2 linked regions of the Homo sapiens genome follow. The protein of the gene in region 2 interacts with the protein of the main gene of each other region in a biochemical or structural test. Each region holds a gene or a part of one and is shown on either strand. Other genes may lie near its edges.

Region 1 (3,130 bases), on a different chromosome or scaffold from region 2:
TTTGAAAGATACAAATTCCCTAATTCTATTTCTTTTTCAAATACATTTTATAATTAAAATATTTACTCTTTCTAGTTGTCCTAGCTAGAAAAAATATTGTCATTTAAAATTGGTTTTCCCAAGCTTACTTCAGCCACATGTTAATGACCTACCTTCCCTGCCTCCTTTTCAAGAAAAAAAAGTGAAAAAAAATTTTGATGTCTTTGGTAGAGTAAACCAAGGTCTCCAAAATTAGTATTCCAGTGTTAGTTGAAAATGCCTAGGTTTGATATTATTCTTTTTAAAGTCTCCTTAAGGTTGGGAAATCTGATATATCCTAATTCAACTCTTCTATTTTGCAATTGAAGAAACTGGGCCGGCGTAGTAAAATTATATCGGGCCTCAAGTTCTCCAGCCCCTAGCATCAATGCTCCTCCACCTATACCAAGATGGCTAGATTGTGCAGTAATGCAAAAACGAGACAAAAGAGCTCCAATGGCATCTTAATGTATGCAAATCTGACAAATAGCTATGAATCATCCCCAAGGTAATACTTTAAAGCAGGCTTTGATATATTTGATGTTATGATGAAATGAGGAACTCAGATATTCCAACACTTCCAAATGTCACATCCAAAAGTTTGAAATTAATATTAGCATTCTATAAAGGCACTTCAGTGAATATAAGAATTATGACTAAGCCAAGAACTTCCAGTTTTTATTTTTTAAACATCATTTAACAAGAAAAAACATTCAACCAAATTAAAAAGAACTAGGTTGGATTAATTTACAATAAAATAATCAACTTAAAATATCGGCCCTTCCATTTAGGGCCAAGGAGGCCAATAGTTCCTGTTTAAACAGCAGAATTGCACAATTATTTTTACCTATATTTGATGGCACAAAAAAATAAAAGTCTTACAACTTCCACGGACATCCTCCCCTCCCTCCAGAGCAGAGTTCATACAATTCCATCTTAGGTCAGTACTCAGGCTTTTAAAAATCATCTTACGTTTTGAAATATAATACAACTACTCTGGTAACAAGAATACTTTTAAAACAATTCTTATAGAAAACAAATACCTTAGATAATTGTGTGGCACATTAGACTGCTCAAAGAAACAGCAAAGATGAAAAATAATGTACAAGAATTATAGTCCCTTGTTTATAGAAACCATCCAAATAAAATATTTTCCCTAATTTTCCTTGCTTCTTATAATTTATTAGCAGAGATGAATTACAAGAAGCAGAACGCACCATTTTTTGGTTCTTGGTTGTAGCTGCCAACTTAGGAGTTCATGACTATAAATATAAAGCAAATATGATTATGCTCACAAGCTCTGGAATGGTAAAAAAACCCCACATATCTCTAAAGTGTTTCTCTATCCTTGCTTTCAAGTCATGACAAAAAAATTCACAGCAGTTTAAAGGATGGTGAAAGACTAAACATGGGCCCACTAAAATAGAGATTAATTTTACCTATTACACTCCTATAGTAAAAATTGTAATAAGTATGATATTGTATTAAGTAACATTCTATAGTAAGCCGTTGGAGCAAATACAGCATTTAACAGGTTCATTTACAGATCCGGCATGGTAGCCTTCAGACAGAACATCTTATTTTCACTCTTGAACATGTAACCTTTAAAAAAACCAAAAGGAATATGTAATTTATGACAGCTGGCCAGGCACTTAATTTGGGGAAAGAGAAGGATTTTGAGGTAAACTAGAATTCTTTTCAGCAATCACAAACATAGCCTAAAAACCACGTTTTATACCACACTGAAGTTATTCAGCTTTTAACTATAAGTTTGTCACTCCTTTGTGCCAAAATTCACACCTAGGTGTAACTTTTTTTTTGGAGACAAGTCTCTCTTGTCACCCAGGCTGGAGTGCAGTGGCACGATCTCTGCTCACTGTAACCTCCACCTCCTGGGTTGAAGTGATTCTCCTGCCTCAGCCTCTCAAGTAGCTGGGACTACAGGCACGGGCCACCATGCCCGGCTAATTGTAACTTCTTAAGGTATTCAAAGAACATACTCAAGTCTGAATTTTGGCCCCATTTAGAAACTTCTGTGCTTAGAACATACTTGGAAAACTCTAAGTACATACATACAAGGGCTATTGGCACAAGAGCCCAAGATGAGTAACTATCTTTCTCCCTAATTTGACATCAAATTTAATAGATTTTTAAGAAAAAGAATCACTGCCAGTCACAGACATTTAAAAAAGAAATGACTGAGGTGATAAGCCTCAGGAAAATTACAGAGTAGCACTGCTCCAGAAGGAGCAGAAACAGAAAAGCAGAATTTCCATTTACAAATGATGACAGTACTGTGAAAGCTCCCAGAATTAGCAGTAAGAAGCACAACTCTGCAGGTTCATTATACTCTGGACACAGTATATGTTTCTTCTCTTCTGAATTTCAAGGTAATATGACATTTGCTTAATAAATGAAAATTCATAATATAGAAGATGGAGGACCTCAGTAAGTATTTAGATATTAAAGACAGGAACAAAGTGGCCATTTTGGAATTAGTCTTTTATCAAAAGTTATCCAAGTCTATTTTTCATGAGAATTACCAGGGTATTATCTGCAAATTAAAATGCCAAGCCTCCAAATCCTCATAGGTATCAATTAATTATATTTTCCATTCCTGTCTCAACAATTTCAACTTCCTGTTTTGAGCAAACTCATCAGCTTAGATTTATCAACATCTTGTTTTAAACCCTTCAAAGAACATTATGAATAAAGAGAATTTAAAACGTTTCTCAGCTGAGACATCCTCATTCTCAAATGAGAATATTGGCTTAATTTAGAGTTTCTACATGGCTAAAAGAAAAAAAAATGTTTAAATACGTGATACTGAGTTTTCCAGTCATGGTAAAGGGTTTGTGCTAACTGACCTCTTCTTTCCTTGCAGGGCTAACTGCAGCTACCTAGCAAAATTACTAGCTGGAGTTACTGGTGCAATGAGCAAATGCAGAAGAATTTCTTTCTCTGTGATGCTAACTGGATTGTTCAAGTTTTGAAACTGTGACCCTGGTCCATTAGCACCATGCTTTACTCAACTGAAATAATCAAGCCCCTATTGCTGTGGGGGAAGCTGTAGAGGGTGGGGTGAGAAGGGGATTGAAGGCAATTATATACA
Region 2 (3,927 bases):
GAATGTCCCAAGGGAGACAATTTTCTTTTATGTGCTGTCTAGATTTAAACAATTACTCCATTAGAAAGCTTATCACCAATAAAAAAAAAAAAAAGTCCCTACTCATTCTCCTTCCTTCCTGCACTGCCTGAAGATATAACTCTATAAAGTATAACTGAATATAAATAGCACTGTTTATGAAGCCACAATGGCAAAAGAAACCACAAAAGTGAGGAACATCAAGAATTTGCTAACATTTATTGACGAGCCCAGGCAATTACTGCCAAGTATTCAAAGCTTAAATGATGGTACTAATTTGATTGAGAGTAGTTTTCAGCATCTTTAAAAACAAAAACAAAAACAATTCCCGTAGAACTAACCACTCTAGAACCCATGAGATTAATTGGTATAGAAATGAAAAAGGGAGCCTAAAGCCTTTACGATGTTTCCTGAACAGTTTAATTATAACTCAACCTCACCTAGCTTTTCTTTCCCTTTATAAATTAACATTTCCATCTCACTTGTCAATTCTTCTACTTATATCAACTAGAAAATAGAGAACTATTGCTTATAAACACCTAAACCTATTAAAAAACTAAACCTTTTTACACTTAGATTACAGAGAAGAAAATTATTTAGAAATTGGTTTTCAAGGAAATTGTATATCACTATATTTCTCTGATATACAATTATGGGAAAATATTTCCTCTTAGAATTCAAACATATTGCCAAAGCCATTTACAAGTCTTTCAGTATTTGGCAATGAAGAATAATGAAAAAAGTTGGATAGATGTCACACAGTAATATTAGTAACTGATTTGGCAGCTCCCCTCCCAACAACAAACACATTGAAATTACCATAACTTCTGAAAAGAAAACATTTTCATAAAATACCAAAAGTGGTGAGTATTTCATAATATTCCCCCAAATACAAGTAAGAATGAAGGTATTCACTTAACAGGCTATTGAATTTCCTTCGGACAGTTTAAAGATCGGGACAGGTAAGCCTGGGGCCTTCTTCATTCTAAGCAGTAGCTTTAACTTCTTTATCCATTACCCATGGTACTATAGTAATAAAATATATATATATATATATTTTACATCAGAATACACATAAACATATATACCTAACAAATATATATGCATATGTAACTAAGTTTTACCAAACAATACTTACTCAAATATATTTTCTGTTCTTTACAAATTCTTTCCTTTTCATTTTTTTCAACACCAGTCATTGTCATCTAACTTGATTTCATGTGAAGAGCAAAAACCCAGTCTGAAAAACACAGGTCTGAGGCAATCTTATACTGGAATGCCGGGACCAGGGCAGATCCCAACCCGGTGCTTGGGAGTCCTGCCTGTGTCTCAGGAGCCATCTAGAGTAAAGGCAAAGTACAGACAGACCCAGACCCCGCCCTGGGTAACCAAAGCTGCTCAGCAATTATCTTGGCATTTCACGTAAGACTTAACCTACAGGCAGGGGGCAAAAAAAGTTCTCAGTTAAAAAAATCAAGTTTTAAAATCACTGAGTTACATTACCTTTCCGGGTCCCCTTCCAGTGTATGAGTCTAGAAATAAGTATTCATTATAAACTATAAAATAAGCCACAAATTACTATAGAATCAAAACTGTATCATTAGATCACAAAAACTTTAATAGTCAAAGCTTTGTAATTTATAATGTTAGAATTTCTCAACATACTGTCTTGATTACAAGTTCTGATGGCCAGGCATGGTGGCTCACGCCTGTAATTCCAGCACTTTTGGAGGCCGAGGCGGGCAGATCACCTGAGGTCAGGAGCTCGAGACCAGCCTGGCCAACATGATGAAACCCCATCTCTACTAAAAATACAAAAAAATAGCCAGGCGTGGTGGCAGGTGCCTGTAATCCCAGCTACTTAGGAGTCTGAGGCAGGAGAATCGCTTGAACCTGGGAGGCGGAGGTTGCGGTGAGCCAAGATCGCGCTATTGCACTCCAGCCTGGGCAACAAGAGCAAAACTCCATCTCAAAAAAAAAAAAAAAAAAAAAGTCCTGACGGCACCTCAGCCTCCCCTCAAATTCCCTCCCCGTCCTGCAGAAGCAACCCTCCAAGACTTCTCCCTTACTAAAAGTACACTCTTCTTATAGTCTTATTAATAAAACAATGTTATAATTGCTAAATGTAACACATTACCACATAAACACACTAAGGCACGCCGATTACTAGGCTCCTTAGACAGTGGTCAATTTGAACAAATTGATGTTCCTAAACCAAAAACTCAGCAGCTTTTTTCATTCATAAAAACATGTATCTTCCCGCTGGAATTACCTCCAGCCAAAATATACCGAGTTGGGTGCATGGCATTGATGGAACACACAGAGACAAGGTATTCTCCACCAAACGAATGCACCCTCTTTCCTGTCTCATGGAAGATTTCTACCCGTCGTGGATGGGCCATGCTGCCAACTATGACACAGTCTTCTTGTTTAGGATCCCACATGGCTTGGAACCTGGTCAGCCATCGCCCAGTGAAAGTGTTGTGCCTAGTGAGGAAAACAATATATTTTTTAAATGAAGTAAGGTTAAATAAGGTAGCATTGGGCAGAGGGTAAAGACGGCATTGCTCCTAAATGCTAGTTTTCTCTGCCAAGTTTCTTCTCATTAAGTTACTGAGTTACCACCAACCTTACCTCATCCTTACAGGACTGAACCTCTGGACAGAGACGATATCCTCCTCATCTAAAAATCTCCCAAAATAAAACATATGGAGCCCTTTATAGTTCCCAAAAGCAAAAACAGAAGTACTGCCCTTTTAGTCTTTTTGCCTTAATATCACTAACAATCCTTTTTCATTAAAGTATGGACTACACATTTCCCACTGCCACTTAAATGACCCCATCATTAATGAAAATTCTTACCCCCTAGAATAGTCACCCTACATAAATTTTTTAAAAATATACATAATATGGCCAGGCACAGTGGCCCAAGCCTGTCATCCCAGCACTTTGGGAGGCCGAGGCAGGTGGAACACCTGAGGTCAGGAGTTCGAGACCAGCCTGTCCAACACGGCGAAACCCAGTCTACTAAAAACACAAAAATTGGCCAGGTACAGTGGCTCACACCTGTAATCCCAGCACTTTGGGAGGCCAAGAGGGTGGATCATTCAAGGTCAGGAGTTCGAGACAGCCTGGCCAACATGGTGAAACCCCGTCTCTACTAAAAATAGGAAAATTAGCTGGCCATGGTGGCGGGTGCCTGTAATCCCAGCTCCTAGGGAGGCTGAGGCCGGAGAATCACTTGAACCCAGGAGATGGAGGCTACAGTGAGCCAAGATTGCACCACTGCATTCCAGCCTGGGCAACAGAGTGAGACTCTGTCTCAAAAAAAATAAAAATAAAAATACAAAAAGTAGCCAGGCATGGTGGTGCTTGCCTGTAATCCCAGCTACTGGGGAGGCTGAGGCAGGAGAATTGCTTGAACCCAGGAGATGGAGGCTACAGTGAGCCGAGATTGCACCACTGCATTCCAGCCTGGGCAACAGAGTGAGATTCTGTCTCAAAAAAAAAAATAAAAATACAAAAATTAGCCAGGCATGGTGGTGCTTGCCTGTAATCCCAGCTACTGGGGAGGCTGAGGCAGAATTGCTTGAACCCGGGAGGTGGAGGTTGCAGCGAGCTGAGATCGCGCCACTGCACTCCAGCCCCCGTGTCAGAGGGAGACTCCATTTCAAAAAATTAAAATTAAAAATTAAAAAATAAAATAAATATACATAATACTGGCTGGGCACAGTGGCTCATGCCTATAATCCCAGCACTTTGCGGGGCTGAGGAAGGTGGATCATCTGAGGTCAGGAGTTCAAGACCAGCCTGACCAACATGGTGAAATCCCATCTCCACTAAAAATAGGAAAGTTAGCCAGGCATTGTGGCTCATGCCTGTAATCCAGCTACTCAGGAGGCTGAGGCA

The links.
Region 1: the proteins of WDR76 (region 2) and NRAS form a complex in vitro, tested with the Homo sapiens proteins (one study listed by BioGRID).

The regions. Positions count from the first base shown.
Region 1 is NC_000001.11:114,703,801-114,706,930, forward strand, and holds the end of NRAS (GTPase NRas), read right to left. Parts: 3' UTR 669-3,130; downstream 1-668. UniProt on the Homo sapiens protein: Ras proteins bind GDP/GTP and possess intrinsic GTPase activity.
Region 2 is NC_000015.10:43,864,706-43,868,632, reverse strand, and holds the end of WDR76 (WD repeat-containing protein 76), read right to left. Parts: intron 2,506-3,927; coding exon 2,241-2,505; 3' UTR 221-2,240; downstream 1-220. UniProt on the Homo sapiens protein: Specifically binds 5-hydroxymethylcytosine (5hmC), suggesting that it acts as a specific reader of 5hmC.